2 separate regions of the Homo sapiens genome follow, and region 1 is linked to region 2. Evidence: fine-mapped expression QTL. A gene starts in region 2. The other region holds a variant in brackets. All regions are shown on one strand. Distances are between the middles of the regions.

The links.
Region 1: its variant is fine-mapped to the expression of CDH15 in cerebellar hemisphere (GTEx, PIP above 0.99). The same link has a PIP of 0.9 or more in cerebellum.

The regions. Positions count from the first base shown.
Region 1 is chr16:89,187,109-89,202,223 of GRCh38, forward strand. It overlaps CDH15 (cadherin 15), which reads left to right. Exons shown (of 14, transcript NM_004933.3): 6 at 321-449; 7 at 992-1,177; 8 at 3,135-3,388; 9 at 4,222-4,364; 10 at 4,547-4,786; 11 at 5,097-5,336; 12 at 6,362-6,498; 13 at 6,647-6,805; 14 at 7,754-8,384. The coding sequence ends at 8,047. SLC22A31 (solute carrier family 22 member 31) reads right to left here and starts at 13,429. Exons shown (of 9, transcript NM_001384763.1): 1 at 13,370-13,429; 2 at 12,605-12,708; 3 at 12,305-12,459; 4 at 11,915-12,083; 5 at 11,544-11,689; 6 at 11,334-11,442; 7 at 11,014-11,228; 8 at 10,190-10,301; 9 at 8,653-9,197. The coding sequence starts at 13,393. The coding sequence ends at 8,891. RefSeq lists enhancers at 452-591, 6,665-7,330, 11,709-12,332, 13,581-14,203 and silencers at 5,183-5,512, 14,496-14,585. The variant C/T (reference allele first, on the strand shown) is at 7,393.
Region 2 is chr16:89,164,505-89,179,619 of GRCh38, forward strand. CDH15 (cadherin 15) reads left to right here and starts at 7,244. Exons shown (of 14, transcript NM_004933.3): 1 at 7,244-7,369; 2 at 14,912-15,070. The coding sequence starts at 7,328. It overlaps LINC02138 (long intergenic non-protein coding RNA 2138), which reads left to right and starts at 1,879. Exons shown (of 3, transcript NR_046200.1): 1 at 1,879-1,995; 2 at 2,633-2,802; 3 at 3,605-4,643. RefSeq lists enhancers at 2,267-3,115, 3,116-3,963, 10,461-10,960 and a silencer at 6,680-7,319.

The DNA of each region.
Region 1 (15,115 bases), 23 kb after region 2:
TGCTCTGCAAACGCTTACCCAGTGCAGAGTAGGTGCTCTGTAAACGCTTACCCAGCGCACAGTAGGTGCTCTGTAAACGCTTACCCAGTGCACAGTAGGTGTTCTGTAAATGCTTATCCAGTGCCATAGGCTAGGGCAGCATCACAGCCTCATGCACTTAGGATCAGGGCAGGATTCTCAGGGCCACTTGGGGTCTTCAACACCCACTGGGTGCTCCCGTAGGAACTGAGCTGGCCAGGTGGCCTGGCTCCCACCCCTGACCAGTCCCCATGTGCCCCACCTGGGCCCTCATCTTCTGACCCTGTGCCCCACATCCCCAGGTGGTCGCGGTGTACAATCTGACCCTGCAGGTGGCGGACATGTCTGGAGACGGCCTCACAGCCACTGCCTCAGCCATCATCACCCTTGATGACATCAATGACAATGCCCCCGAGTTCACCAGGGATGAGGTGCTGCTGCTGTCCCTCCCTCGAAAGTAGCCCCTGCTTAGAGCTGCCTTCCCTTCTTGGGCTCCTGCAGAAGGCAGCGGGCTTCATGATGGGGCAGGAGGATGGTGTGCTTTGGAGAAGGAACTCCGCGTGGGCGGGTGGAAGCCCAAGCTGGAGGGGCCCCGGGGTGCTGCGTGGCAGTGTGTGAATGGAGTCAGAGTTGGGAGAGAGGCCCTTGGGGAGAAGCAGCCCATGGGACCCTCTGAGGCCCTCTCGCATTGCAGAGCAAGTCTCCCTCCGGCCTTTGCTGTATGGGAAGGGAGCACGAAGCTGAGCCCACAGAGGAGGACCATGGGGGCACGTGGGGGACAGTGACTCACAAAACAGACAAACCTGAGGACACCCAGTGGGTGGGGAGCAGCTTCGACAGGAGCAAGGGAGGGTGTTCCTGCTGGGAGGCAGGAGGGAGGGTGGGAGGGGAGGGTGGGCTGAGGGCCCTGAGGGCCCCACCCATGCTGTCCCCCCAGCCCTGCTGGTAACTGGGGCTGGGATCCCCCACCCAGTTCTTCATGGAGGCCATAGAGGCCGTCAGCGGAGTGGATGTGGGACGCCTGGAAGTGGAGGACAGGGACCTGCCAGGCTCCCCAAACTGGGTGGCCAGGTTCACCATCCTGGAAGGCGACCCCGATGGGCAGTTCACCATCCGCACGGACCCCAAGACCAACGAGGGTGTTCTGTCCATTGTGAAGGTGAGCGGCCCCCGGCTGGCACACAGATGCCGGCAGACGCAGATGCCGACACACACAGATGCCCACACACAGATGCCGGCACACACAGATGCCCACACACAGATGCCGGCACACACACATGCCGGCACACACAGATGCCCACACACAGATGCCGGCACACACACATGCCGGCACACACAGATGCCCACACACAGATGCCGGCACACACAGATGCCGGCACACACAGATGCCCACACACAGATGCCGGCACACACAGATGCCCACACACAGATGCCGGCACACACACATGCCGGCACACACAGATGCCCACACACAGATGCCCACGCACAGATGCCGGCACACACAGATGCCCATGCACAGATGCCGGCACACACAGATGCCCACACACAGATGCCGGCACACACAGATGCCCACGCACAGATGGCGGCACACACAGATGCCGGCACACACAGATGCCGGCACACACAGATGCCCACACACAGATGCCCACACACAGATGCCCACGCACAGGTGCCCACACACATGCTGGCACACAGATGCCCACGCACAGGTGCCCACACACAGATGCCCACGCACAGGTGCCCACACACAGATGCCAGCACACACAGATGCCCACACACACATGCCCACACACAGGTGCCCACACACAGATGCCCACACTGTCCACACACCGATGCTGGCACACATAGATGCCCACACACAGACACCCACACACAGATGCCCACACACAGGTGCCCACACACAGATGTTGGCACACACAGGTGCCCACACACAGATGCCGGCACACACAGATGCCCACACACAGATGCCCACACACAGATGCCCACGCACAGGTGCCCACACAAAGATGCCGGCACACACAGATGCCCACACACAGATGCCCACACACAGATGCCGGCACACACAGATGCCCATACACAGATGCCCACGCACAGGTGCCCACACACAGATGCTGGCACACACAGATGCCCACACACATGCCCACACACAGATGCCGGCACACACAGATGCCCACACACAGATGCCGGCACACACACATGCCGGCACACACAGATGCCCACACACAGATGCCGGCACACACAGATGCTGGCGCACACAGATGCCCACACACAGATGCCCACACACAGATGCCCATGCTGGGGTTTGAGCCCCTTCCTGGCAGGTTCACATCCTCTGACCAGCTGGGACCTTGTGTTCGTCCTTGGGTGAGAGAGAGTGGGGGAGGGCATGGAGCCCCCCAGCCTGAGGACTGGGTCCCAGGCCACGCTACCCATGGGGCTTGAGGGCCAGAGGCAGGGGACACCCTCCACCACTTTGCTCTGTCCAGCCTTCCTCCTTTCATATGGAATCCATGTACAAAATCACAGCTGCACACCTGTGTCAGTCCTGGTTCTACCAGAGAAAGAGGCCATAGGAGACACATGCACAGATATGTCCACACGTGTAGATGTGGGTGTATTTAGATACTGACACAGTAAGAGGTTTACTGCAAGAAATTGGCTCATGCGGTGCTGGGGTCTGGCTGGGCAGGTCTAACGTGCAGACCACAGGCTGGAGCCGACGCAGCAGTTTAGAGGCAGAGAAAATGCAGTTTTGCTCTCAAAGCCTTCACCTGAGTGGATAAAGCCAACCCACATCACCCAGGACGATCTCCTTTATTTAAAATCAAGTGACTGCAGGGGCTGGCGCCATCCCCCAACGGCCCTCGCTGAAATACCCGCGGAGTATGTGCTTGAACCCTGGGCTGCTCCCCAACCACCACCACACACAACCAGCATTTTAATAATATTCTTTGTGCCTTCTTGTCCTGCATAATTTGTTTTTTCAAGGTTAAAAAGGGGCAGAAGGAAAGTACAGGTGCTCTGGACAGACCCAAGGAGTGGCTCCCCCATGGCACCTGCCCTCGGGTGCCCACACTTGCGTTGGGCGGATGACGGGCTGTGCTTCCTTCCCTCAGGCCCTGGACTATGAGAGCTGTGAACACTACGAACTCAAAGTGTCGGTGCAGAATGAGGCCCCGCTGCAGGCGGCTGCCCTTAGGGCTGAGCGGGGCCAGGCCAAGGTCCGCGTGCATGTGCAGGACACCAACGAGCCCCCCGTGTTCCAGGAGAACCCACTTCGGACCAGCCTAGCAGAGGGGGCACCCCCAGGCACTCTGGTGGCCACCTTCTCTGCCCGGGACCCTGACACAGAGCAGCTGCAGAGGCTCAGGTGGGGCTCCTGAGGCCCTGGGAGAGGTAGAGGAGGCTAACGGCCCCATTCCTGCTTCGGGTGCCCCTGATCCCTGGGCTCTGAGGGTCAGAGGGTGTAGGGGCCATTTGCTGTGTGGGTTCCTGAAGGTCTGGAGGGTCTCGAGTCCCGAGCATGCCCGTGTGTGCATGTTGGGGTGACCTCACCCCCTAGGGCAGGCCCAACTCCAGCCTGTGCACGCCAGTCTGTCCCTGCCAGCCGTGTCCATCCCAGGAGGCCCTTGCTCCCAAGGGACTGGCCGTTCGCATCTCATTTCACTCCAAGCCTGGCCCTGTGTATCCCTGTCTGTGTCCACGGGGCCCGGGAAGGGCCAGCACCAACTGAGGCTTAACTAGGTTGCCACACAATTGTCTCAGCGCCCTGGACAGCTCGCCTGCCCTCCCTGAGCCTCAGTTTCCTCACCTCACAGAAGGTGCTGGTGACTGCAGCTCCCATCATATTCACATGGGTTGTGTGTACATGTGTATGTGCATATGTGTGTGCACATGTGTGGTACATGCGTGTGGTGTATAGGTGTGTGGGGGGTGGTATGTGCAAGGTGGGGGGGAGTGTCTATGTGTATATATGTGCATGTGTGTGTGCTGTGCATGCCCATGTATGTGTATGTGGTGTGTGCATGCATGTGGCATGTAAGGCTGTGTGTGCGTGTGTATATGTTGTGTGCATGTGTGCATGCATGTGGTATGTATGTGTGTGCCTGTGTGTGTGCAGTGCATGTCACGCACCCATACCTGACCACACCTGTGGGGCCCTGGGGTAAACTCAGATCCCACTCTTCCCCTCCCCTGCATCAGCTACTCCAAGGACTACGACCCGGAAGACTGGCTGCAAGTGGACGCAGCCACTGGCCGGATCCAGACCCAGCACGTGCTCAGCCCGGCGTCCCCCTTCCTCAAGGGCGGCTGGTACAGAGCCATCGTCCTGGCCCAGGATGACGGTGAGCGGCGCCGCCGGCTTGGGGCTCCCTGACCTGGCCTTGTCCCGGCTGAGCACCCCTGCCAGTGTCGGAGGGCTCTGCCCATGTCGCCCGGGGGCTCAGAGCTGCGCACCCGCTCTGAGCCGACTGGTGGGGCAGGCTGGGGTGTTGGGGTCACTAAGCCGCGGCCTCCTCGCCTGCAGCCTCCCAGCCCCGCACCGCCACCGGCACCCTGTCCATCGAGATCCTGGAGGTGAACGACCATGCACCTGTGCTGGCCCCGCCGCCGCCGGGCAGCCTGTGCAGCGAGCCACACCAAGGCCCAGGCCTCCTCCTGGGCGCCACGGATGAGGACCTGCCCCCCCACGGGGCCCCCTTCCACTTCCAGCTGAGCCCCAGGCTCCCAGAGCTCGGCCGGAACTGGAGCCTCAGCCAGGTCAACGGTGCGCTCCCCTCACCGCCGCGCTCCCCCCATCCCCACGCTCCCCCCACCCCCACATTCCGGCCTCGGACGGGGGCAGGAGGGTGAGGGGCATGCAAACCCGTGGTCCTGCAACAGGTCCCCTCCCGCCACCCCCCCCACCACTGCATCCTCCCGTGGGGCAGGGTTACTCATTGTGCCCAGAGGACGGTGGGGGTGGGGGGGACCCAGGCCCAGGATCTCGGGATCCCCACCCTGTCTCGGCGCGAGGAGGGCAGGCGAAGTGGGGGCGGCCTCGGGAGGCCCTCGCTCACCACAGGCGCCCTCCGCAGTGAGCCACGCGCGCCTGCGGCCGCGACACCAGGTCCCCGAAGGCCTGCACCGCCTCAGCCTGCTGCTCCGGGACTCGGGGCAGCCGCCCCAGCAGCGCGAGCAGCCTCTGAACGTGACCGTGTGCCGCTGCGGCAAGGACGGCGTCTGCCTGCCGGGGGCCGCAGCGCTGCTGGCGGGGGGCACAGGCCTCAGCCTGGGCGCACTGGTCATCGTGCTGGCCAGCGCCCTCCTGCTGCTGGGTGAGTGAGCGCCCCGCCTCCACCTGGACCCTCGGACCCTCGGACCCTCCTCCCCAGGCCGTCCCCTGCTAACCAGCCACGCCGCTTCCTCCCCAGCTCCGCCTCCTCCCTAACCCCGCCCCCTCATTACCAGCCACGCCGCTTCCTCCCCAGCTCCGCCTCCTCCCTAACCCCGCCCCGTCATTACCAGCCACGCCGCTTCCTCCCCAGCTCCGCCTCCTCCCTAACCCCGCCCCCTCATTACCAGCCACGCCGCTTCCTCCCCAGCTCCGCCTCCTCCCTAACCCCGCCCCCTCATTACCAGCCTCGCCGCTTCCTCCCCAGCTCCGCCTCCTCCCTAACCCCGCCCCCTCATTACCAGCCTCGCCGCTTCCTCCCCAGCTCCTCCTCCTCCCTAACCCCGCCCCTCAGTACCAGCCACGCCGCTTCCTCCCCAGCTCCTCCTCCTCCGTAACCCCGCCCCCTCAGTACCAGCCACGCCCCTTCCTCCCCAGTTCCACCTCCTCCGCAACACCACCCACTCATTACCAGCCACGCCGCTTCCACCCAACCCGCCCCCTGCTCGCCAACCCCGCCCCCTCATTACTAGCCACGCCCCTTCCTCCCCAGCTCCGCCTCCTCCCTAACCCCGCCCCCTCATTACCAGCCACGCCCCTTCTCCACTGCCGCCTCCTCCCCAACACCACCCACTCATTACCAGCCACGCCGCTTCCACCCAACCCGCCCCCTGCTCGCAAACCCCGCCCCCTCGTTGCCAGCCACGCCTCTTCCCCAAGCCGGCCTCTCCTTACCAGCCAAGCTCCCTCCTCCACAACCCGGCCCCCTCCTCCCTAACCTCGCGGCTTCCTCCCCAACCCCGGCTCCTCCATGCCAGACACGCCCTTTCCCCAACTGCCGCCCCCTCAACCCCACCCCTGCTTACCAGCCTTGCCCCGCCCCGCCCCCTCCTCCCACCTCCTTCGCAGCCCGGCCCCCTGAAGTCGCGCCCTGTGCCTGGCCCCAGCCTGCGTCCCCTCATTCCCCAGTGCTGGTCCTGCTCGTGGCACTCCGGGCGCGGTTCTGGAAGCAGTCTCGGGGCAAGGGGCTGCTGCACGGCCCCCAGGACGACCTTCGAGACAATGTCCTCAACTACGATGAGCAAGGAGGCGGGGAGGAGGACCAGGTGAGGGGGCAGGTGTGGGTGGGGAGGGGTCCCCAAGGAACCCAGGTCGCGGGCCTTCTTACAACAAGCTGGCCAGGAGCCTGTACCTGAGACCTCCACCAGGGCCACCCGAGGGATGCCTGGCTCTGTTCCACCTCCTCGCCCACAGGACGCCTACGACATCAGCCAGCTGCGTCACCCGACAGCGCTGAGCCTGCCTCTGGGACCGCCGCCACTTCGCAGAGATGCCCCGCAGGGCCGCCTGCACCCCCAGCCACCCCGAGTGCTGCCCACCAGCCCCCTGGACATCGCCGACTTCATCAATGATGTAGGTGCTCCTGGGGACACCCCAGTACACACAGGCACGCACAGGTGCACACACACATGCACATGTACACACCTGCACATGCATGCAAGAACCGGCGCCTGCATGCACTTATGGGCCGTCCCAGAGCACCGCAGAGGAAGATGGTGTGCGGGCGGGAGTGTGGAAGCCCCGCTGCCACCGTCCAAACTGGGCCCTCAGCCTCCACCCGCGACGCGGGTCTTTGCACAGATGGAGTGGCGATGGCCACAGACCCATCCACTGCCCCGTGTCCACCATGGAGGGGGTGGGGGAGCCCCGGGAGCATCCCCTGGGCTTCGGTGGCTGTCAGCGGAATCAGGGCCTCCATAGAAGACCCTCTGGACACAGCGTTAATGATTCCCTGCCATCCACAGGATGAATGTGCACACGGGGAATCTGGGGTGTGGGGCGCACAGGGAACCCTCCTCTGTGCCTGTCTGCACCTGTAGCACCTGGCTCAGAGAAAGCCCCCAGCCAAGGTGTACACCCCCGGTTAGGAGCGTGTGTCCCCACGAGCTGAGAGGACAGACATGCAGACAGAGCCTCCGAAAGGCAGACGGGCCGTTCTG[C/T]GGATGGGGGTGTCCAGGAGGCTCGGGTTCTGCCTTGAGTGGACAAGGGCCACGGGGAGGAAGAGACCAGGGTGAGGGGGAGCAACCCCTTCCCACCTTGCTGGGGCAGGGCAGAGCCCCGGGGGACGGGCTGGCCGCTGGCCTAATACTGAGGAAGGGGGTAGTCCGTGGCACCCTCTTCACAACCCTGCTGCTGTGCCCTCAGGACGCTTTGCCTCCCCTCAGACCTCGCCCCCGGACGTGGGCAGCTTCCCCTTCCTGAGCCCGTGCCTTGAGCTGACTTTGCCCTGGGCTGTGGCCACGGCGGTGGGGCACCCGCTGGCCCCTCCATGTGTCTTGAGCTCTCCGGGCCTCTTTATAGGGCTTGGAGGCTGCAGATAGTGACCCCAGTGTGCCGCCTTACGACACAGCCCTCATCTATGACTACGAGGGTGACGGCTCGGTGGCGGGGACGCTGAGCTCCATCCTGTCCAGCCAGGGCGATGAGGACCAGGACTACGACTACCTCAGAGACTGGGGGCCCCGCTTCGCCCGGCTGGCAGACATGTATGGGCACCCGTGCGGGTTGGAGTACGGGGCCAGATGGGACCACCAGGCCAGGGAGGGTCTTTCTCCTGGGGCACTGCTACCCAGACACAGAGGCCGGACAGCCTGACCCTGGGGCGCAACTGGACATGCCACTCCCCGGCCTCGTGGCAGTGATGGCCCCTGCAGAGGCAGCCTGAGGTCACCGGGCCCGACCCCCCTGGGCCTGGGGCAGCCTCCTTCCTGTAGGCGAGGGCCCAAGTCTGGGGGCAGAACCTGAGTGTGGATGGGGCGGCCAGGAAGAGGCCCCTTCCTGCCGGGGTGGGAAGAGTTTCTCTCCATCGGCCCCATGCGGGTCACCTCCCTAGTCCCACCTTTGCCTCCTACCAGTGAACCTCATCTTTGTATGAAAGACAGCAACCTCCTGGGTAAATCTGAATGAAAAACGTGCTAGTCTCTTTCATGCAGGACGGGCGCCCACTGCCACACTGACCATGAGGGGGATGGGGCCAGTGAGGCCTGGCCTGGCAGGGACCTGAGGGCCAGGCCCCCATACCACCCTGCTTGGCTGGGGCAGGAGGCGGCCGGGGGCTGCCACTACCTGGACAGGGGCTATGGAGCAGCCGCTGACACCCTGGCTCCTTGCTGGTGAGCCCAGAGGTGGGGAGCAGGCACAGGTGAGACCCTTCCAGGCCCCAGGTGTGGCCTGAGGGAAGAACCAGGGAGGACGCCAAGTTCCACAGAAGCCTTTATCCTCCACACCTACTGGGTGTGGCTGGGGGGAGACCCAGGGCCTCCCAGTGCCTGGGGCCTGGCTGGAGACACCTTCACGCTGTCCCCACGGCTCCACCTGCACTGAGACACGGGCTTCTGAGAGGAATGTGTCTGCCCTGGACCAGACGTCTGGGGTACTCAGCCATGCCCCAGGCCTTGACTTTGGTCCCATCCTGGCTCCCAGGGCCACCAGGCAGGACTAGTGCTGCTCGGGGGTGTGGCCGGCCCAGTAGGAGTTGGAGGGCGGCAGCAGAGGCAGGTGGTCCTGGCGGGGGCGGCCCCGCAGGAGTGGGGAGCGGCGCAGGCGGTCGGCGTCCTGCAGTGACTGGGGCAGCCCCCGGCTTCGGCTCTCAGGCAGCAGCAGGACACACAGCAGGGCAAGGACAGCAAGGGAGGCGAAGACGACTTGTTGCAGGAAGAAGCCCTGCCGGCCGTGCAGGGTGTCCAGGGGGCCGGCTGCCTGGCCCAGGAACCCGGCCCCCAGCACCAGGCCCAGCCCGGCCCCCCTGTGGGACAGAGTGTGTTGGGGGCAGCCAGCCTCCTGGCCCAGGAACCCGGCCCCCAGCACCAGGCCCAGCCCGGCCCCCCTGTGGGACAGAGTGTGTTGGGGGCAGCCAGCCTCCTGGCCCAGGAACCCGGCCCCCAGCACCAGGCCCAGGCCGGCCCCTCTGTGGGAGAGAGTGCGTTGGGGGCAGCTGGTGGGGCAACAGATTGGGGGACACACATGTGACTCCAGAGTGAGCAGGGGGAAGGCCCGGCCTCCGCACAGCCTAAGGTTTGCTGGCTGAGGATAATTTGAAAAATTGTTTTGGAAAAACCTCCTTCCTCTCCTGGAGCACTTTTTGCTCTGTTCAAGACTGGAAAGTGGCCGGGCACAGTGGCTCATGCCTGTAATCCCAGCACTTTGGGAGGCCAAGGCAGGCGGATCATGAGGTCAGGAGATCGAGACCATCCTGGCTATCATGGTGAAACCCTGTCTTTACTAAAAATACAAAAATTAGTTGTGCGTGGTGGTGGGTGCCTGTAATCCCAGCTACTCAGGAGGCTGAGGCAGGAGAATCGCTTGAACCAGAGAGTTGGAGGCTGCAGTGAGCTGAGATCACACCACTGCACTCCAGCCTGGTGACAGAGCGAGACTCCATCTCAAAAAAAAAAAAAAAGAAGAAGAAGAAGATCGAAAAGTGATGCTTTCCCCGAGAATTCTGCCATTTCTGGAGGCCTCCTCATCTCTGCCCCCACCCCGCACTCCTGGCTTCAGGCCTGCGTGGCCTTCCCTCCCCTTCCCAGTTCCTGAGCCGTCTGCCCAGAGCCTTCTGTGAGCAGTGGCCCCCACCATCCAGGAGCAGGGCAGTGCTTTACCCCGAGTCCTTACTGGATGGAGGAATCACAGGCAGGAACCTGGGTGGGGTATGGGGACAGGGCCTCCTGTCCACCTGGCCCCTCCTCCCCATGAGAGGCCCTGGACCCTGCTGTGTGGCCGGGCAACCCTGAAGCTCACCTGATCACCGTGGGGAAGACCTCGGCCGCGAAGAGGCTGCTGAGTGCGGACACAGCCCGGGAGGCCAGGAGCCCCAGGACAGAGAGGAACAGCACAGTCCAGCCTGGCAGATCTGGGGACAAAGAACAGGGGTTCCCAGGCTCTCTCCCCAGGCCTTCCACCCTGGCCACTCAGGGCCCTTCCCCAGAGAACCACACCACTGTCTGGGGACCCACTTTCCAAGCCTCCTTTTCCAGCCCCCCTGAGAAACCTGGAGGGGGAACCTGTCCTCTGCAGCCTGATTCCAGCCTGGCTTGGATTCTAAGGATGTTAGAATCCTGACCCCGAGCCGCAGCCACACCGACCACCTCCACTCGGGCCCACGCTCAGCTACTGCTGTGCTGTCCACTGTCTTTGCAATTTCGAGAACCGTCCTAAAATCTCGAATACGTTGGAAGCAAGGCCTGCATTTCATTTTGCACCTAGCTCCACACACCATGTGGCTGGCCCTGAGTATATGGGCCCTCCCACACCAGTCCATGGCCGGCCTCGGCCACCTGGAACTCTGGGCAGAGCTTTTACCCAGCCCGGCCTCTTGACCTCTCATGCCTGTGCTGCACTCTGTGGCTGGGGCAGGTGTTTTAGGCTCAGACAGTTTCCTTACTTTAGGCCAGTCACAAAAGATCCTTTTGGGCCTTCCACAAGGATCAGAGGAAAACAAACAGCAGCTGGCCTTGGGCTGCCACCCCAGGCTGCTCCCCTGTCGGCACTATGGCCCCCTGGTGTGGCAGACCGTCGGCCCAAACACAATGGCTCCTGTATGGCCTGCGGGGCCCCAAGCTCACACTGGGCCCCAGCGAGGAGCAGCAGGGATGCCAGGCCTGTGACCATGGTGCCCAGCAGCAGCACGGGGCGGCGTCCACAGCAATCTGCCGTCAGGAGCAGGAAGACCAAGGCTGCCGCCTCCAGGCCGGCCTCCAGGAAGTAGGGCAGGTAGAAGGTCGGCACCTGAGGTGCCAGGCTGCGGCGGAAGCTAGCTCTGATGCCTCCACCAACCAGCCTGGGAGAGAGAGCAAATCTATGGGCCCAGCCAGAGCCGGGGACTCTGGGGACCATATGCCCACCCCGGGGGATGGTGCAGGACCCCAGCCCTTCCTCGACTCACGAGCTGAAGCCCAAGATAAGCCCGTTTCTCCAGGTGACTCGGGTACGCAGAAGCCCCAGTGGGGAGTGGTACCGGGGCTGGGGGCTCCGTGCAGACAGCATGGTCAGCTCTGTAGCCGCAGAGATGTGAGGGGAGGGGGGTGAGGAGCTGTGCCTCTCCGAAGCCCTCCTCCAGTACCTGAATCTCCCTCCTCCCTGGTAGGCGCCTGACCTGTAGCCAGGGAGTTCTCCTCCAAGGAACTGTCCCCGGGGCCCACGCCACTGGCTTCTGCAAAGCGCCACAGGATCTTCCTGGCTCGAGCTACCTGACCTGTGGCCAGCAGCCAGCAGGGAGACTCGGGGAACAGGGCCGGGAACCTGCAGCGTTGGTGAGGATGCCCACGGCTCCCTCCACCTCCTCCTGGAAGGAGAGGCAAAGGCCAGGGCCCCCACCCCACCCCCAGGCTCAGGGGCAGGACATCACTGTAGTTCTCTGTGACCCTGTAACCCATGCGTTTACCTGGCATGGGATACGTCGGTGCAGAGGGAAGCTACATAGTCAGCCCCGATGAGGGCTGCTGGCCCAGCTCCCACCACACTTACCCCCAAAAGAGCAGCAAGAGTCCACTCATCAGGGCACCCAGCCCCTGCAGAAGACGCCAGTCCTGCACAAGCGCAGCCAGGCCGGGCAGCAGCAGGGTGCCCACCACCGAGAAAAGGCCAGCCCCCATGGAGAAGGCCAGGCGGTGGGGAGGGTCACACAACTCCAGGCCTGGGCAGACACAGACAGGTTGAAGTGGAGGCCTCGGGGAGGACTGGAACAGTTCCATTGGGAACTGCGGGGACCTATTGGTGACCTGCCCAGGAGCGGGATGCCCAAGGGACTCACTGCTCACTGTCCCTGCAGCTCGGGGCCCTCGGCAAGGGAGCCTCAGAGGCCTGCGGGCCACCCACTGCCCCTCCCCCAGTGACAGCAGCCCCCAGGGTACTCACGAGCCAGATACAGGGCGAGGAGGGCCCCTGCCAATGTGCCCCCGTGGAGTAGGCGCAGGACCAGCAGGGTAGGGAAGCTGGCAGCCAGGGCCTCACTGGCCCCCAGGCCTGTGGTCAGCACCAGGGAGGCCACAAAAACTGCCCGGCGTCCAAACCTGGTGGGCAGCGGGGGACATGCTTGGACAGGGTCAGGATAACCCAGGGTCCAACCTTCATCCTGGCAGCACCAGGTCTAGCTGAACCCTGAGAGTGGGCGGAGGGGAGGGCTGCTGGGCAGCAGGAAAAGGGAAGGGGCCTCACCGGTCACAGCCTGCTCCCAGGATGACACAGCCCAGCAGCCAGCCCAGGAGGTGGCTCACCTGCTCCAGCGGGACCTTCCAGCCGTCTCCACACACAAGGTTCCACTATGGGGAACAGCAGCCACGTGGAGGCCAGCTCAGGACCCTCCCCTGGGGACAGGTGCAGGGAGTCCCAGAATGGCTACTGGAAGGGGCCCTCCATGTCCTGCTCAATCCCTCCGTGGAGAGAAGGGGAAACTGAGGCATGAGAGGGCAAGGGGCTTGGTCCAGGTCACACAGCAGCCTCTCTGGTCTCCGGCAGCCCCTGCACAGGGGTCGGGGGGATCTGCCCACCCTAAGTTTTCTGCTTGTCCCTAGATAGGGCCTCCCCCACCTCCGCACACCATTGCTCTTCCCCCACGGCCAGCTCTTGTCCGACCCGTTTCCACCTCCTATTCCGAGGGACCCCGGGGACACCCAGGGCCTTGGTGGCGTCATAGACACAGCCCCCACCCCAGCCGGCCAAGGGTCATAGCCATGACACAGGCCTAAGAAATGAACCCCAGCACCTGCGCTGGTACCCACGCCCTCCCTGCCCTGCCCATTTCAAGAGGGACTCGGGCAGCGGCTGGAGAGCTGTGCTCAGCGGCATTTCCCGGTGAGGCCCTTGACCCTTGACCTCAGCTCTGCGCCTCCCCCCACCCCTTCCGGTTCCTGGGTCTTCTTGGCAAGCTTAATCTACTGCTGGGGGCCGTGCTATGCCCGAGATTTTACTTTCAAACCTGACGTTTTGGGAAAGCTGATGGGGCATTCCTGGATCCAGGCACCAAACAGGAGGAGGGCAGGTGGGAGGTGGGAGGGAGCAGGGTGGAGAGAGAAGCCCGGCGGGTTCCAGGGCCCCAGGCAGCCCTTGTGAAGATGTGGCAACCCCGTTCCAGTTTCCACACTGGGGCCAGTCCTCCCAGGATGGGGGATGGGGGCCTCGGGGTAAAGGCTGCCTCAGGGGTGTGCAGGTCTCAGCCCCAGCGCGGAAAGGCATGAAAGGGGCCTGGAGGTCCCTGCCGCCCGCCTCCCCATCTCTTCTCACGCAGATCGTCAAGGTTTCCCTTCAGGCAATGCAGTCTCTAGCCCAGCCTCTGCGCACCTCACTGATGGGAAGCCCACCTTCCCCAGTCTGTGCTGACCACGTCAGTCCCTCCAAGCAGAGACTCTGCCTTGGAAAGCCAGCCCAAAGCCACGGTCTGCTGAAGACGCTGGTGGTCCTGAAGCAAATTCCAGGCCCTGCTCCCCCACCGGCGCCTTCGGCTCCAATCCTCCAGCGCCCCAGGCCGCCCCGCGCCTGGCAGCTCCCAGGCCCAGATTCAGCCCCCGCCCGGCCCCTCTCCGCGGGTCCGGCCCGTGCGCGCCCGTCTGCGGCACCGTCGGGCCGGCGGCCGCCCCGGAGCAGGAAGCCCAGGAGGACGGCCGGGGGGCCCGGGTCAGAGGCGCCAGGTAGGATGGAGAAAGGACACCCAGGGCCTCGGCGGGCTGGGGGCGGGGAGGGCTGCGGGGCAGCAGGGACGGGGGCGCACCTGGGTGACCGGGCTTTGCAGGAGGCCGGCGCCGGGCAGCGCGTAGAGCCAGCCGCGTGTGCAGGGCCGGGTGCCGTTGCGTGCGGGCGCGGGGCGCGGGCCCGGGGCGGGTGCAGGGCGCGGGATCGGGGTAGCGCAGGAGCAGGCAGGGGCTCGCGGCTCGCGTGGGCCCCAGGCGCGGGATGGCGGCGTCCAGCAGCGCGGGTCCGCGCAGGGCGCGCAGCGCTGGGGGCAACAGCGTGGGGTCCGGTCGGCAGTGGGGCGCGGGCTGCGCGGTAAGCAGCTCCTCGGAGCTCAGCACCAGCCCCAGCACTATGCAGGGTACCCACGAGGCGGAGGCCAGCAGGCGCCGGGCCCGGCCAAAGCCGCCCGCAGCTCTCAGCACCCGCGCCTCCTGCTCCATCGGTCGCAGGCTGCGCTCGGGACGGGGCGGGGCCTGGACCAGGGCGGGCTCCTGGGGCGGGGCTTTGGGGCGAGGCATTAAGGGGCGGAGCCTGAGTCCAGTGGAGGCGGGGTGTGGGGGCGGGCGGTGTGAGGGCGGGGCCTAAGGCGTAAAGGGGCGGGGCCCGATCTGGGGCATAGGGCGGGGAGGTTGAGGGGCGGGAAGGTTGAGAGGCGGGGCTTGCGGCCGAACCGCGAGGGGGCGGGGCCCCGTGAGGGCGGCACGTGGGGGCCGGGGGCGTGGCAGGGGCGTGGCCGGGAGCGCTCAGGTGCCCTCGCGGCGCAGGTGCACTCAGGTTGCCCGGGGGCGCGCGGGCTCCGGCCGGCGTCCCGGGGTGGTCCCCGCGTGGGGCCGGGGGCGTCCGCGCGGGCGGGGCGAGGTCGGGGAGGGCAGCCGCCCGCCCTCCTCGGCGCTGGGAGCTTTCGGCTGGTACTGCGGGAGGAGCTCCCGGGTGACCCGCGGGTTCTGAAACCGCCGCTCGGGAGCTCGGGGCCTGCGCTGCGTCTACGGGGCGAGCGAG
Region 2 (15,115 bases):
GCCCAGCCTTTCTTCCCAGCCCTGACGGCCGCAGAGCCCTGCCTGTGGGCCAGGCCTGGAGGGGTCATCGGAGGGGTCGCTGAACAGCCTCTCTCCCACCAGCAGCTGGAGACGGAGATTAAACGCGGGGAGACTGGCAGCGTCAGCTAAATTGATTCTATTACAGCGACTGATTTAATCTGAATGGTCGTTACTGTGATTTATACGGCTGCTTGGGATTCTTTGCTCCCAAATTTGTCTCCCGTCCACTTGATATTGATTGAAAGACGATGGAGGAGGTGGGGAGGGGCGGGGCTGCCTGAGCTGACTCAGGGACCCCTAACCCCTTCCTCTCTGCCCCGATTGCAGGGGTGCCAAGCACAGCTGTGCTGGGAAGAGCAGGAGGCAGCGGAGAGGACCTGGTGCCCTCCGTGTCCAGCACACGCCCCCTGGCCTCTGCCCTCCCTCCCACCCAGCTCTGGCCCAGAAGCGCCTGCCACCAGGCGGCCCATCCTTCCAGAAGCTTCTAGCAGATGGGACCGTCATCTCCCAGCCGTGGCCCTGGCCGGCCCCCCCAAAGGGCAGGGTGTGGAATGACCCAGGGCAATGCTGGGCTCCTCCGATGACGAAGCCGGAAGCTCAAAGGGTCTCTCTGAGGACTGGGGGCCTTACCCCAAGTTTCTTCATGTCCAGGGATCAGAACTGAGAGCTGCCAGCTCCTGAGGCAGCCCTGCCCTCCACAGGTGCCAACCACCACCCAGGAGACGGGATGGTAGGAACAGTAAGATGGTGGTCAGGAGGCAGCCACCCTGGCCTCCTCCAGTCTGGGCACCACCCAGCTCCAAGAGCCAGGCTGGGTGGCCAGGGCACTGCCACTGTCCCATGGCACAGGCTACCTTCAGGGACACTGGGGATGAGGCAGCCCCTGGACTATAGATGCAGCCGGGGTCCCTTTAACTCCCATCCCTACCCCGTGCCCTTCTCCCTACCCAGAAGCTCCTGTCCTTGCAAAGGACAGCACCCCCGCCCGCCCTCCCTGGGCAGCCAGCAGTTCTCACTGCCCTCTCCGGGGTGCTCAGTGCCTGTGGCTGACGGGGAGGACAGGTTTTGGGGGCACTGCCCTGTGCTCCCCATGCCCACCCTACCATGGGCCCAGCATGCTCAGGAGGACCCCGTCACACGACCTTCCTTCCAGGGCCCCAGAGCATGCGGAGCCCCTCCTCCCCTCTGCGGCCCCTTCCTGCTCCCTCTTCCACCCTCCTCCCTCCCTCCTGTCACAGTGTTGGGTTATGGGGATAAAGGACAGAGGCCTGGGGCACTGAGGGAGGGACAGAGACACCCACGCAGCGGGGGAGAGGACAGACGTCCGGAACTGGGTAGAGATGGGCCGTGGGTGGGATTTGCTGGGGACAGAGACCTATGCAGTGGAGGAGAGGACAGACGTCCGGAACTGGGTAGAGATGGGCCGTGGGTGGGATCTGCTGGGGACACAGACCCACGCAGCAGGGGAGAGGACAGACGTCCGGAACTGGGTAGAGACGGGCCTGCCGTGGGTGGGATCTGCTGGGGACACAGACCCACGCAGCAGGGGAGAGGACAGACGTCCGGAACTGGGTAGAGATGGGCCGTGGGTGGGATCTGCTGGGGACACAGACCCACGCAGCAGGGGAGAGGACAGACGTCCGGAACTGGGTAGAGACGGGCCTGCCGTGGGTGGGATCTGCTGGGGACACAGACCCACGCAGCAGGGGAGAGGACAGACGTCCGGAACTGGGTAGAGACGGGCCTGCCGTGGGTGGGATCTGCTGGGGACACAGACCCACGCAGCAGGGGAGAGGACAGACGTCCGGAACTGGGTAGAGATGGGCCGTGGGTGGGATTTGCTGGGGACAGAGACCTATGCAGTGGAGGAGAGGACAGACGTCCGGAACTGGGTAGAGATGGGCCTGCCGTGGGTGCGATCTGCTGGGGACACAGACCCACGCAGCAGGGGAGAGGACAGACGTCCGGAACTGGGTAGAGATGGGCCGTGGGTGGGATCTGCTGGGGACACAGACCCACGCAGCAGGGGAGAGGACAGACGTCCGGAACTGGGTAGAGACGGGCCTGCCGTGGGTGGGATCTGCTGGGGACACAGACCCACGCAGCAGGGAAGAGGACAGACGTCCGGAACTGGGTAGAGATGGGCCATGGGTGGGATTTGCTGGGGACACAGACCCACGCAGCGGGGGAGAGGACAGATGTCTGGAACTGGGTAGAGATGGGCCTGCCATGGGTGGGATCTGCTGGGGAGGGGAGCGTTCGCATGGTGTGGGGGGCTGGACAGCCACTCTCTCCGGGACCACAGCTTTCTGGGCTGGGGCAGGACAAGGCCACTCATGCCCCACTTGCCCTTCTGAGGTTCAGCCAAATGAGGCTCCCACCCCCATGACTCACAAGGCAGCTGGGAGCTCCGGCACTACCCGTGGGGATGGTCAGGACTCTAGGGGCCTTGGGGGGTGTGGGCCACTCCACCGTCAGCCCCAGCCCCATCCCCAGCCACAGCCTGTCTTTGGAGGGTGCTGACTGGGGGCCATTGCAGCTTATGGATCCCTGTGAAAGCCTGAACATCGGGAGCAGCCTGGTGACCTCTGCTCTCTGGTTCCCCCAACAGTGCTGTCCCACGTCCCCACCCCTGTGGCCAGCTCCGCCCACTCAGCCTCAGCCTTGCTGGGGCCTGGCCCGACCTCAGGAGTCCCTGCTGGCCTGGCCACCCTTGTGCCTTCGCCTCAGCCATCGGGGAGGCTCGGGTGGTCTCAGGGCCAACGCCAGGTGAGACCTCAGGTGAGCTGCCCCCCACCTTCCCAGTGCTCAGGGCCAGGGAAAGGGTGGTGGGCATGGACCACACTTGCAGCCCCCCCCTGGGGCATGCCTGGCCGCTGGCCTCCCTGATCCCTGCCCGGGTTGGGGCTCCAAGGGCAGGAAGTCAAGGCGTCCACGCTTGGTGACAGTGCTGGGCCGGCCTGGAGGGGGCAGGCATGTCCAGCATGGAGACGGAAGCAGGGAAGAGCCCATCGTCCCCTCCCAGCTCTGCCCTGAACACCCTCCAGCAATCGGAGGAGCCCGCTGCCCTTCCCCCACCCGCCTCCACTGGCATCCCTGGAGCCACACTGCCCCCTGCCGGGGCTGGCGGGTGTGATGGGCCACCAGGCCACCAGCCCTGACCCCGCCAGCCCTGAGCCCGCCAGTCCTGAGCCCACCCGAGCTCTTACGGCTGCACCTTGAGCCAGTGCCTGGTTGGCTCCTCTGTCACTGTGGGGAGATGGGACGCAAAACCAGTGTCAGGCTGGCTGGGCAGGACAGGACCCCACTTCCCCAGGTCAGGGACAGGCCTGAGGGAGCCCCAGACAGGCCCGCCACCCCCTGACCCCTCTGTGCCCAACTCCCCGTAGAGCCAGGACTGACCGTCAGGCTCCAGGGACCTGCTGTCCCCAGGTCCTCAGGAGGGCCAGCACCACCCCGCCCCCACCAGCAGCCCCTCCTGTCTAACATGTCCGTCTGTCTGTCTGTCTGTCTGTCCGTGTGTTTTGAATGCCCAAGATGTTTTAAACAGACTTCTCGAATATTCTTTTCATGTGTGTTGCAGGGGGGGTCAGGGGCTTCTGAACAAAAACGGCACCCCCATACCTGATGGGGCTCCTCTGAGCCCACCTGGACTGACCCCCTGTGGCCGCCAGGGGCAGCTGGTGGCCTGCCTGAATGTGGGGGCAGTGTCACCCCTGAGCCCAGAGAGCCGGAGCACAGCAGGGTCCAGGATGGCCCCAGCTACAGACACTGCCTGGCTTCCTCCACACCCCGAGATCCAGCTGCGTCTCCTCTGTCCCGGGGAAACTTACGGGAAACTTATGGGCGGAAGTCCCTCTGCAGGGCCCACTACCCAGAGCCAGCCACATGCACTCAGGCCAGGGCTCAGGGGCCGTGGGGGCTGGTGGCCCCAGCCCTTCTGGATCCACTCCCCACCCCTCACTCACTCCGTGGGGACCTTCATCTGCCTAGATGGGCTGGTCTGTGCTCTGACGGCCCCAGGACTGGGTGTCGGCCTCACCCCAGCGCCCTGGCGGCCTCCCGGCCAGAGTAGAATGTTGGAAGGGCATGGCCCATGGCCGACGCCAGGCTCCCGGCCAGGGCCCACCTGTGTTTGTCTCCTCACCCCGGCCTCCTCCAGCCTCAGGCCCTGCCTGTCAGACAGGGGCACTTGCCCAGGGGCTCCTCAGGGAGCAGTTGGTACCTGCAGAGCAAGCCCCCAGAGCCCCTGCCACAGGCACCCCAGCCTCAGGTCAGGTCTGGAATGGACACAGCCCCCAGACCAAGACCAGGGCCTCCTCACCCCGGGGTCCCCTCCCTTGGTGTCGGGTGTCACCCAAACTCCCTGGACGTCACCCTTCTGCCCTCCACGCCCCACACCCTGGGTAGGAGCCGCCTTCACAGCTGCTAACCCCTGCCCTCCAGCCCCCACTGCCTCTTCGGTAACGGGGCTGTGACTGGCCTAAGCCCTGGGCCTCCACAGGGCCCCTGTCCAGCCCACCTTGCTCAACCGCAGCGTTCCGCATCACGCCTGCCCCTTAGTGGTTGGGGTGTGCATGTATATTTATACACTGTAATTACATAAATACAATTTAATAATCAAGGGTCAAGTGCCGTTACTGCACTGTGCAATTACAGAATCACTCCAGAGCAGACACCATGGCATCTCAGCTGAAAACCGGCACCCGCCTGCATCTATCGTGAGAAAGTTGGAAATTCCTTAGCCCAGCCTCGACCACTGCCTGCGGTGTTGGGAGGAGTGGCCAAGGGCTGGGGGTGGGGGGACCTCTGGGACATCCAAGACTGCAAGGCTCCTGGGGGGTCCGGGACCCTGTTTGTTGTCCCCCCGTTCCTCATACTGGGGAGAGGAAATAGGATGGGAACTGAGGCTGTGGACCAGGGAGCCCCCTCTACATCTTGGCCGGCCCACCCCCACCTCATGCCCATGAGGTGCGTCCCCCGAGGTGGAGAGTTGAGGTGGGCAAGGCAGAGGGCAGGAGTGATGGGGGTGAGTCCCAAAGGCTCAGGACTGCAGACTCTGGAAAAAGGAGGAGAAGGCCCAGAGTGGGGTCCTAGCTGGAGGCTTGGGGTGCTGAGGGAGGGTCCGGCGTCTCCAGGTCCACCAGGAAAGGGAAGGGCTCTTCTAGGGCTGATGGTCCTGCAGCCGAAAATGTACCCCTGCCCCCACTGCACAGGACCTCCAGACTCAGGGTACCCAGCCCTTCCCTGCCACCTACCTCTGACACAAGGAGAAACTGAGGCACGGGGGAGAACCTCCAGCCCAAGGCTCCGAGCTGGGACTGGACCCAGGCTCCTGCCTCCTGACCTTCCTGCTGCCCTGGGAGCATGTGGAGCGGGGTCCCTCGCGGGGGCACCTGCCCCTGGGGGATAGCCCGCCAGCCAGGGAGCACACCCTCCCGCAGTGGTTAAGCCGGCTGCTTCCCTGGCCCCGCCCTGCATTTGGGGCTCACCCAGGACCTGGCCCAGCTTAGCCTTTCCCTTAGAGACCCCCACATCCCATGGAGGAGGGATTTGGCCTCCGTTTCTCCCCGAGGTGGGTGGGAGGCAGGTGGCTGAAGCGAGGTGGGTGCAGGGTGGAAGCGGAGAGGAGCTGGGGTTGGCAGACCGCAGCCTCCCCAGACCTCTTTCTGGGGGGAGGGCGAGCACTTCTACCTCACCCCTGCACTAGTCCCGTGAGGATGAAAACCAAAAGCACTCAGAGGGCTTCTCCACCCCTATTTTGAGGTCACTGACCACAGAGGCAGGATGGTGGTCCCCAACAGGCTACACCCCAGCCCCAGAGGCCTCCCAGTCTGGAGATGGACTCCCTGCCCTCTCTCATCTTGGAGCAGTGAGCGCTAGGGACAGTCCTGGCCTGAGCCTCCCGGGCAGCCTGGCCTCCTTTCAAGCAGGCCAAGTGCACAGATGCTGCCTGCACCTGCACAGCCACCCGCCGTCGACAGGAGAGCAGAGGTACCGGGTCTGCTCCCATCACAGAGAGGAACGGGCTCCCCGGCCCGGCCCTGGGCTGGTCGGCAACCCCCACTCCCCACCCTGCCTGCTCAAAAGAAAGGATCCTCCTGCCTCCAGCCCCCTCCACCCCCTCTCCAGGACCTTCCTGACCGTGCGCTGGGCCTGTGCAGGTGTTGAGCCACACCCACACCATCCCAGGGGGCGGGGTCTCGAAGGGGAGAACAGGTGCCACAGTCAACAGGAGGGAGGGCTTCTGGCCGAGGTGGCAAGGAGGCTCCAGGAGGCGGCAGCGTTGACCTTGGGTGTTGAGGGATGATGAGAAGGAGTTCTGTAGGAAGGAAGGTGCTCCAGGCAGGGGGCCTCGGGGAACAAGGGGATGCTGGAGGAGGTGCGTGGACTGGGGGAATTGGGGGTGTCCTACGAGCCACGCTGGTATCAGAGGCGTGTGAACCAGAGCAGTTCCATACTGAATAAGAGCTGGGCAAAATGAGGTCGCGAGGAGGTGCGTGGAAGGCGGGCCTAGCGTTCAGTGGGATGCGGGGAGGCGCAGGAGACGCAGCCAGAGAGGCGAGGGGCCCAAGGAAGTGCTCAAGAGGTGTCCCCCGGCAGGGACTACAATGCAGATTCCCTGGAGCAGGGGCGAGCCGGGCCCAAGGAGCAGGAAATGAAGAAGCCAGGAATCCCAGCTGGTCCCTGACCCGGACGCACCCACCCTGCCTTCCCCACAGCCTGGCCTCTGGCTCTGCTCCCAACGCAGCAAGCCGGGGTATCTCCGACCTAGCCCTGGCCCTGCCCGCCGGAACCCCGCAAAAGCTATCACTCAGCCCTCGGCCCCGCCCCGGCCCCACCCCGGCCCCACCCCGCACTCTCACAAGGTGTCACTCAGCCCTCGGCCCCGCCCCGCCCGCCCCATCCTCCTCTGGCTCCGCCCCACCAGCCTCGTGCGGTCACCGCCCCGCCGGCGCACCTGCGCTGTCACTCAGCCCTCGGCCCCGGCCCCGCCCCGCCTGCCCCACTCGCACACGGGCTATCACTCAGCCTGCGCCCCGCCCTAGCTCGCCAGAGGCTCCGCCCCACCCGCCTGCCAACACGCTGTCACTCAGCCTTAGCCCTGCCCAGGCCGGCCCTCGGCCCGTCAGAGGCCTCCTTCGTGCTGTCACTCAGCCCTTGCCCCGCCCCCTCCCCGCCCCCCTCACACGTGCTGTCTCTGTCTCTGGCCCTGGCCCGCCCCGCGCACTTGCGCTGTCACTCAGCCTGGACGCGCTTCTTCGGGTCGCGGGTGCACTCCGGCCCGGCTCCCGCCTCGGCCCCGATGGACGCCGCGTTCCTCCTCGTCCTCGGGCTGTTGGCCCAGGTAAGGCATCGGCACCTGCGGGGGTCCCCGCTGCCTCCCTCGACGCTGCGGGACAGTGTCTTCAACTGCAGCCGCACAGGTCTCCCCCAGAACCACTGGCCCTGGTCGCCTTTGGGGGCCTGTGAGCGGAGTGGCTCCGGGTGGGTCCCTGGGCTGGGGGCAGCACCCCAGGGGTTGTGGGGAGTGAGTGTAACCAAACACTCCATCTGGTGGAATCACCCCCAGGACTGCAGAGTGCTGCTGGGGTCAGGGACCCCAGGCAGGGGCCACCCAGGTAGCCGTGCCCTCTCTTTGGAGGAACCGCTGCCGGGGTCTGGGGGTTGCCAGTCTTGAGTGGAGCAGAGAGAGGGGGGAGCGGCAGGAGTGCCCCTCTCTGGGGGGCTGGGGGCCAGGTTTCTATAGGGACTCCCTGCGGTGGGCACAGGACCCCTGGCTAGTCTTGGGTTTTGTCCAAACCCCCCACCCCAAGTTCCTGGCCAGCAGGGGTGGCTGCAGGCCCTGCCCCCAGGAACTCACCCTCACGGCTACTTCTCGATTGGGAGGGCCCAGCCCGAGCCAGGTCGCAACACACGGCCTTGCAGAGTGGCGTGTGGCAGCCCTGGGGGCTCTGTTCCTGGGCTTCACCTGGGACCCTGCCGCAGCTGCCTGGGGTGATCAGGCCTGGGGGCCCAGCCCCCAGAGGCTGCTGGACTCTGCCCCTAAAAATCTTGTCTGGACTGCTGGCACCGTGGTCTCTCCAACGTGGGAGCAAGCCAGAGTGGAAGGAAGCCCAGGCCTCAGCCCCCCACACCCGACATGGGTACTGCCTAGCTGGAGCCACGTCTCCTCACACCCTAGGGGGACCTAGACATGGAGGATGTGGCCTCAGTGGCTTCAGCCCCCAGGGACTGGGCTGGGCTGGGGCATGGCCGGCTGTGGTTGGGACGTCACTGGGTACAAGAGGGCAGCCTCTCTCTGGCCAATTCGAGAGAGAATGCACATAAAGGGCTTAGCGGTGCTCACAGTATTCATTGCTCTTGTGGTCCTGGGGTGGTCAGGGAGTGCTGGACACAGTGAGTAAGGGAAGCCACTCCTTTCCCAGCCCCCACTGAAGGGGCTTCCTGAGTCCCCTCATTCCCACAGGCCTCCCAGCTCCAGCTGGCTCCAATTTCAGCCCCTGGCAGCTGACCAGGCGCCTGGCCAGCCAGACCCTCCAGCAGCTGCCCCTGAGGGCACCACGGCTCCTGCCACCCCCGACTCCCCCATCTGGAGACAGTGGTGGGGGGAGACAGTGGCTCAGCATGCGTGCTCACCCCCCGGCCCTCCACCCCTCAGCCCTCTGCCGGGGAGCGCAGGCTGGGGGGCTCCATGCCTCCAGGGCCCTTCCCCACCTGCTCTGGGGACAGGGTTTCTTCCCTGGCACCCCAACCCAGGGCATGGTGGTGGGGAGGCTGGCGCCTGTGAAAACATTCCTCCAGACCTCTTCCTTTGGATTTGGGAGTGTCTGCCTTTCAAAAGGCCCCAGGGGGCTCTGTGGCAGGTGGGGAGGCAGGCAGGACCTCTCCCTCCTCAGAAGCCTTCCCTCTCACTGTCCCTTCTTTTCTCGCCCAGGGCTGGGGGACAATAACCCCCTCCCCCGACAGCTGGAGGCTGGGGGAGGTGGTGGAGGTGGGGGCCAGATGGCAAGGGGACTATCGCCAAGGCTCAAATTCACTCCACTGTGAGGCAAAATATGTCAGTGTCAGGACCCTGCCTGCCCCTCCCCCAGCAGCTCAGCTTTCAGGACTGTGAGCTCTCCTGGGCAGCCTTGGGGTCCTGGGCCGCCTCCTGGTGAGCCCCCAGGCAGGCAGCGTGGGCCCATCAGGGCCTTCTACAAGTGAGGGGTTGCTCCCCTGCTCGGGCCACCTCTGATTGCTGAGCTCACTCAGCCCCACCCGGAGGGTGTCTTCAGAACTGGCCCCTCTCAGCCCTGCTGCACCTACACCATCCCTAGTTGCTGGTTCTACACCTGGGACCCCACCCCAGCTGGGAGGCGGCTGAGGTCTGGGGCAGCACACTTGACTCACAGAGAACCCCAGCCTGCTGGGAAGGTCCCCACTTCTGCATCTGGGTTTTGGGAGCCCCTTGGTCTCTGGGAGACAGTCAGCAGCACCCTGGGGGCCAGGCAGGGGCTCTTAGCTCGGGTGACTGTGACCAAGGCCAAGAAGGGAAGTGGCTCCCAGGCCACTGTTCTTCCCACAGTGGAAGGACAGCCCCAGACACCGTGCTTTGGAGGGGACAGCTGCCTCCATGCCTCTTCTTCCACATCCCTTCTCTGAAGCCCGCAGCAGCTAGAGAGGGTGGGGCCCAGGGAAGATGCTCCAGCCGCTCTGGGCCAGGCCAACAGCTGGGGCCATTCCTGGCATGCCTGGCCATCCAGGAACGGGGTGGCCCCAGATTCCAGCCTGGGGGAGGGGTTGAAGCCTGAGAAGCTTGAGGGGCCTTCGCACTCTCTTCCCAGGCAAACCCACCCACACGCCACCAAGCGTGTTCCTAGAATCTCGTAGCACCCTTCCTTGGAAAACCGGGGGAGCAGGAGTGCAAGGTCGGCCCCAGAACCGCTCCTCGTTCCCGTCTCGCAGTGGTGTTCGTAAACCCCATTCCCACCTCGCAGTGGTGTTTGTAGACTGCAGCAAGCGCCCAGTGTGTGCAGAGCTTTCTTACACAGCAGCCCCTTGGGGTTGAGTGTCAGGCTAGGAGCAGACCTCAAGAGAGGCGTTAAGTCCCAGGAGCTTGGCTGCAGGGCGGTGGCCCCAGACGTCTCAAGGGCTTCGAGGTGGTTCCCTCCAGGCTCTTGGCTAAGGGTCCAGTCGAGGATGAGCTTGGGGGTGTCATTGGGGACCCCCTGTGGGGAAGCAGGTCACTAATGTCCATGGGTCTTGCCTGGCTTGGGTGGGGGACAGAGAGGAGTGGACGAGTGTCCACAAAATCCACCTCCCAGGGTGCTTGCGTCCCCTACCCCAGGTGCAGGGCTGTGGGCTGGCTGCGTTGATGTGGCTTTGTCCTGGGCACCGGATGTCCCGATCTCCCCAGGACGGCTCCCAGGCCCTCCCTCCACTGGCCACGTCTTCTGGGACGGGGATGGGGTGGGAGGACAAAGAGCCAGCTTTGAGAACGCCCCCGAGAGCCGGAAGTGGGCCGTGGCCAGCCTGCTCACCCACACCCACATTGGCCGTGATCTGGGCAAGTGAGCCCTGCCAAGGCTCTGTGGCTGCTGTGACCTGGTGAACTCAGGCTGTGGACAGGCCTGGGCCCAGGACTCCCAGCCTCTGGCTTGACCACACCCGGCCCAGCGTGACTGGAGGGTCTCCGGTGGAGGCAGCTGGAGGTTGGGTGAACAGGGCTGGCCCAGGTTTGGTGGCAGCTGGGCAGGGAGGGGATGGAAACGTCTGCCCGGGTGGGGGTGGCCCCTCCACCTCAGCCGTGTGGGGTTCCTAGAGCCTGGGGTCTCCCTGCCCCATGCCCATGCCTAGCCCAAGGCCGGTGTGGCTCTGTGGCTGGATTTCCTTCAGAGCATGCGGTTCAGAGCCTAATCTGGGTCTCAGACCCCACGTGACTCCTGGCTCTGTCTGTGTGGCTTTGAGCAAATGCCTCAGGCTCTCTGAACCTCACTGCCCAGAGCTGGGAGGTGAAGGGACCACCACAGGCTCCCGGGGGGTTGGGAGGACCAAAGGGGAGGGGGAGAGGGAGGTGCAAAGCTGCCCAGCCACGGCCGGAAACAGACCCTGTGCCCACCGAGGCTGATGAAGGCCCCATGCTGGGCAGGCAGGTTTCCACTTGGCAGGAGCTGCCCTGCCCTGGAAGTGGCTTGTGCTCTGTGGGTGCTGGCAGGCTCCGAGGCCAGGGCCGCCATCTGTCAGCTGGCAGAGAGCTTCCCCGGCAGGGTCCCCTGCCTGGGAGCCTGAGGAACCCCCACCCCATCCTCTCCCTGCTTCCTGCCAAAGCGTTTGCTACTCTCTGGACTCCCAGGAGGCCATGGAGGAGGGGACTCAGGTCCTGCTGGCCGAGGACCAAGAACCCCAGGGAAGGTGGCCATGGTTTGGAGGCTGCTGCCGCTGCCTGTGGGGACCTCTGTGTGCTGGGCCAGCCCTGGGCACAGGACACAGTCAGAGCGAGAGGCCCCAGTGCCCCATCTCAGGGTGGGCAGATGGGCAGCCTGGGCCTTGCTCGTCCACACAGGGTAAGCGGCCGGTGGTGGAGGACAGAGGCCAAGCCTAATGGGGGTTCGGCCTGACAGGCTTCCTGGCCATGCCAACATCTCCTTCCCGGCCCCCGCCCACTCAGACTTACCAGCCCCCAACCGCTGCCTCCTCTCAAGGCCACATGCCCCCACGTCCCGGCCCCTGCCTAGACTGAAGTCTCGGCAAAGCCAGCAGGAGCAGGCGGCACTGGAGGGTGAGGCATTGGCACGGGGCTGAGGAGAGCGGGCAGCCTCGGAGCCAGCAGGGGCGTGGTGGTCAGAGTAGCTGTCGACACCTGTGGTTTTGCAGGGGGAGGGGCGGCCCAGCTGGCCCAGCTCTGACCCCCCGGTTCTCGGTGCTCCATTTCATGGGGCCCCACCCTGCCTGGAGCGGGTGCCCCCTTCCAGCGGGGAGCTGGGTGAGGCCTCCCACGCAGGGTCCCGCTCACCAGGGCCGACTCGGTGCTCCCTCCGCTCGCACAATGTGGGGAGCTGTTCTAGGTGTTGGTGTGGCGTGGCCGGCACACCTCTGTAGTAGGCACAGGACTTGGTGCCGGCTGGGGAGTCCCGTGAGCCTCCCTAGACCCCAGCCCACCTGCTGTCCAGATGAAGGAGCTCAGGAGCAGGCCGCGAAGACGGTGATGTGGAGATGGGGAAGGAGCTCAGGAGCAGGCCGCGAAGATGGTGATATTAAGATGGGGGCCCTGTCTGAAAGGGGAGCTGAGGAGTTTGTGTGTGGTGGGTGATGTTTGGGGCCTGCTCTGCTCCCAGACTCCCCATCGCCTGCCTGGGACCCCCAGCACCTCCCACCCGTCCCCCTGCCCGACATGGCAGCCCAGCAGCCTGAGGGCTTGTCCTGGGTGGGGGTGCCCCAGAGAGCATGGCCCGGGGTAGGGGGTCTCTGTCCCCTCCCAGCCGGGTGGTGCAGGAGGCTGCCCCGTCTCTGCGTTAGGGTCTGTTCCTTGGGGAGCTGCTGCCACCCCCACCACAACCCTGGCCACAGGGTCCTGGAAGCCTCCCACCCTGCCCACCCCAACTCAGCATCTTCCTCTGTAGCCCCTGTCACTGGGACGATGCAGACGCCACACCCTCACTACACGTGGTACCGGTGGGGGGCGGGAAGGGCCTCGGGTCTCTCACCCCCACAGCCCTGCAGTGGGGGGCTGGGAAGGTCGGGGTACCCTCGCCAAGGCTGATTGGGGCTGTGAGCGCTGGGCATGTGGGGCTGGGTGCTGGCCACACATGGGGCCTTAACCACAATGAGGTGAAAGGGGAACACAGCTCCTCACTTTTGCCAGGCACATTTCAAGGGCTCAGCAGCCCCATGTGGCCTGTGGGTCTTGGATGGTGAATATCTAGAACATTCTGGCAGCTAGGAGAGCGCTGTTGGGTGGGAGGGGGCCTCCAGGGAGGAGGGTCACCCGAGAGAAAGGCCGGGAGCCTGGCGACCCCCAGGACTAGGGAGGCACAGACAGCTCCTAGCCAGGCCCGGGGCACAGGGGACGGGGAGAGGGCACAGGGGATGGGAGAGGGCAGCCCTGTTTCCTCCTCCCTCATCTCCCTCTCCCCTGCCTCTCCCCCAGCCCTGGCCCCTGCTGCCCTCACCAAGTTCAGGCAGACTCTGTGCCCCAACGAGCTGCACCAGGCATCAGCCTGACCGGGGAGCTCGAGGGTGACCCCCATGTCCGTGCCGAGCCGAGTGGGGTCAGCCCAGAGCCATGTCCTGTCAGCTGCGGCAGCTTCCACCAGGCTGTGCTTTAGGGTCAGGGGTCTTTCAGGAAGAGCCATGCAGCCCACCCAGAAACACTGACTCCCCAGGCTCGGGGGTCCCAAGCACAGGTGTCCTGGGGATCCCAGGACAGGCAGGACCCGCCGTCTCTAAGCTTCCCTTTGACCAAGGTGGGGCCGGGCACCCCAGGAGGGAGGCCCAAGGCCCAGGCTAGGAGCTGGGTACGGTGACCGCATTTTTAAAACCAGAAAATTCAGGATGTGCTTTTGGGGTCACTACGAGTGCCCCTCTCCACCTGGCTCTTGGACTTGGGTCCCTTCTCTAGGCCTCAGTTTCCCCATCTGAGGGGTGGGTGTGGGGCTATCTGTGGTCACAAAAGTTGCTGACCGTCAGGACCTCGGGAGAATTTGGGGGCAGCCACCTCCACTTTGGGGTCTTTACCGGCCTGAGGGTCGTCCCGGCCCTGGAGTAGGGTGGGGTGCACAGCATCTCCCTCTGCACCCCACACTCTGCCCAGGCCCCATCCCCGAGCACCAGGGCTTCCCGTGTGCATTACAAACAGTGCGTCCCAGCCCCTGATGTGGGAGAGGAGGAGATGGGCACACCAGGGTCCCAGCAGCTGAAGTATTGGGGTGAAGAGATGAAGATTTTACCGAGGTACCCTGTTCTGGGAGAAGAAGAGTGAGGCTGGGGGTGGGGCTGCCCCTCTGTCCCCAGCCATGTCCCTCTTGGCTGTGCAGCCACAACAAGCCCCACCCCACCCAGCCCCACCGAGGCAGCCCTGGCCCCTGCCCAGTCAGTCTCAGGAACCCGCACCACCAGCGTTGGCTGCCCAGCCCTGACGTGTTGGGACCTGACAGACCAGCAGCAGCTGCAGGCCGGTTCAGCCACACAGCACAGTCCAGTTGGGGGCCGCTGTATGAATTACGGATACATCTCCAGCTGCTCTTGATGGACTGGAGCTGAACTCTCGCATCCCGGGGTTCAGTTCCCACAAAGCAGCCTGGAGAGGTGGAGGGGGACGGGCACTTTCCTGCAGGCACCTCCCCTGCCGCTCCCCCGGACCCTCCACAGCCAGCCCACTGTGCCCACAGGCACCGCCACTGGCTTCTTGGGGTCATTCCGTGTCAGGACCCCACGCTCTCCCCAGCCCTGGCTGGCCCAGGGGCTTTCCGTGTGCACCGCTACCCTGGCACCTGGGGCGAGGCTGTGTCCCCGCCGGGTGAATCTCAGGTGTCCCTCCCAGCCAGAGGCCTGGAACCCTAGCGCTACCTCCCAGTGGCCCATGCACTCGCCAGGGGCTGCAGACAGCCTGGCTGCTGAGTGGGCCCAGTAGGAGACTCGGGGGCAGCTGGATGGGGGCTTTGAGGGCCAGTACTTGGGGTGTGGCCACCAAGGCCCTGGCTCAGTCCGACGGGGGCGGGGCTCACGTGCCTTTGCCCTTGTGCTACGCAGCCCCGTGTGTGGAAGCCGCCTTGCGCCAATGGGCACCGACCCGTGGGCTGAGGGAAACACTGCGCCCCGTGGCCTCCTCACCACCCACAGCTCCCAGCTGCACGCTGCCGCCCAGGGCTCCAGGAGACGGTACTGTGGGACGCATCTGTCTTTGTTGCAGAGCCTCTGCCTGTCTTTGGGGGTTCCTGGATGGAGGAGGCCCACCACCCTGTACCCCTGGCGCCGGGCGCCTGCCCTGAGCCGCGTGCGGAGGGCCTGGGTCATCCCCCCGATCAGCGTATCCGAGAACCACAAGCGTCTCCCCTACCCCCTGGTTCAGGTGAGCAGGTGGAGGGGGCAGGAGGGGAGAAAGGGGTAGGCTGGT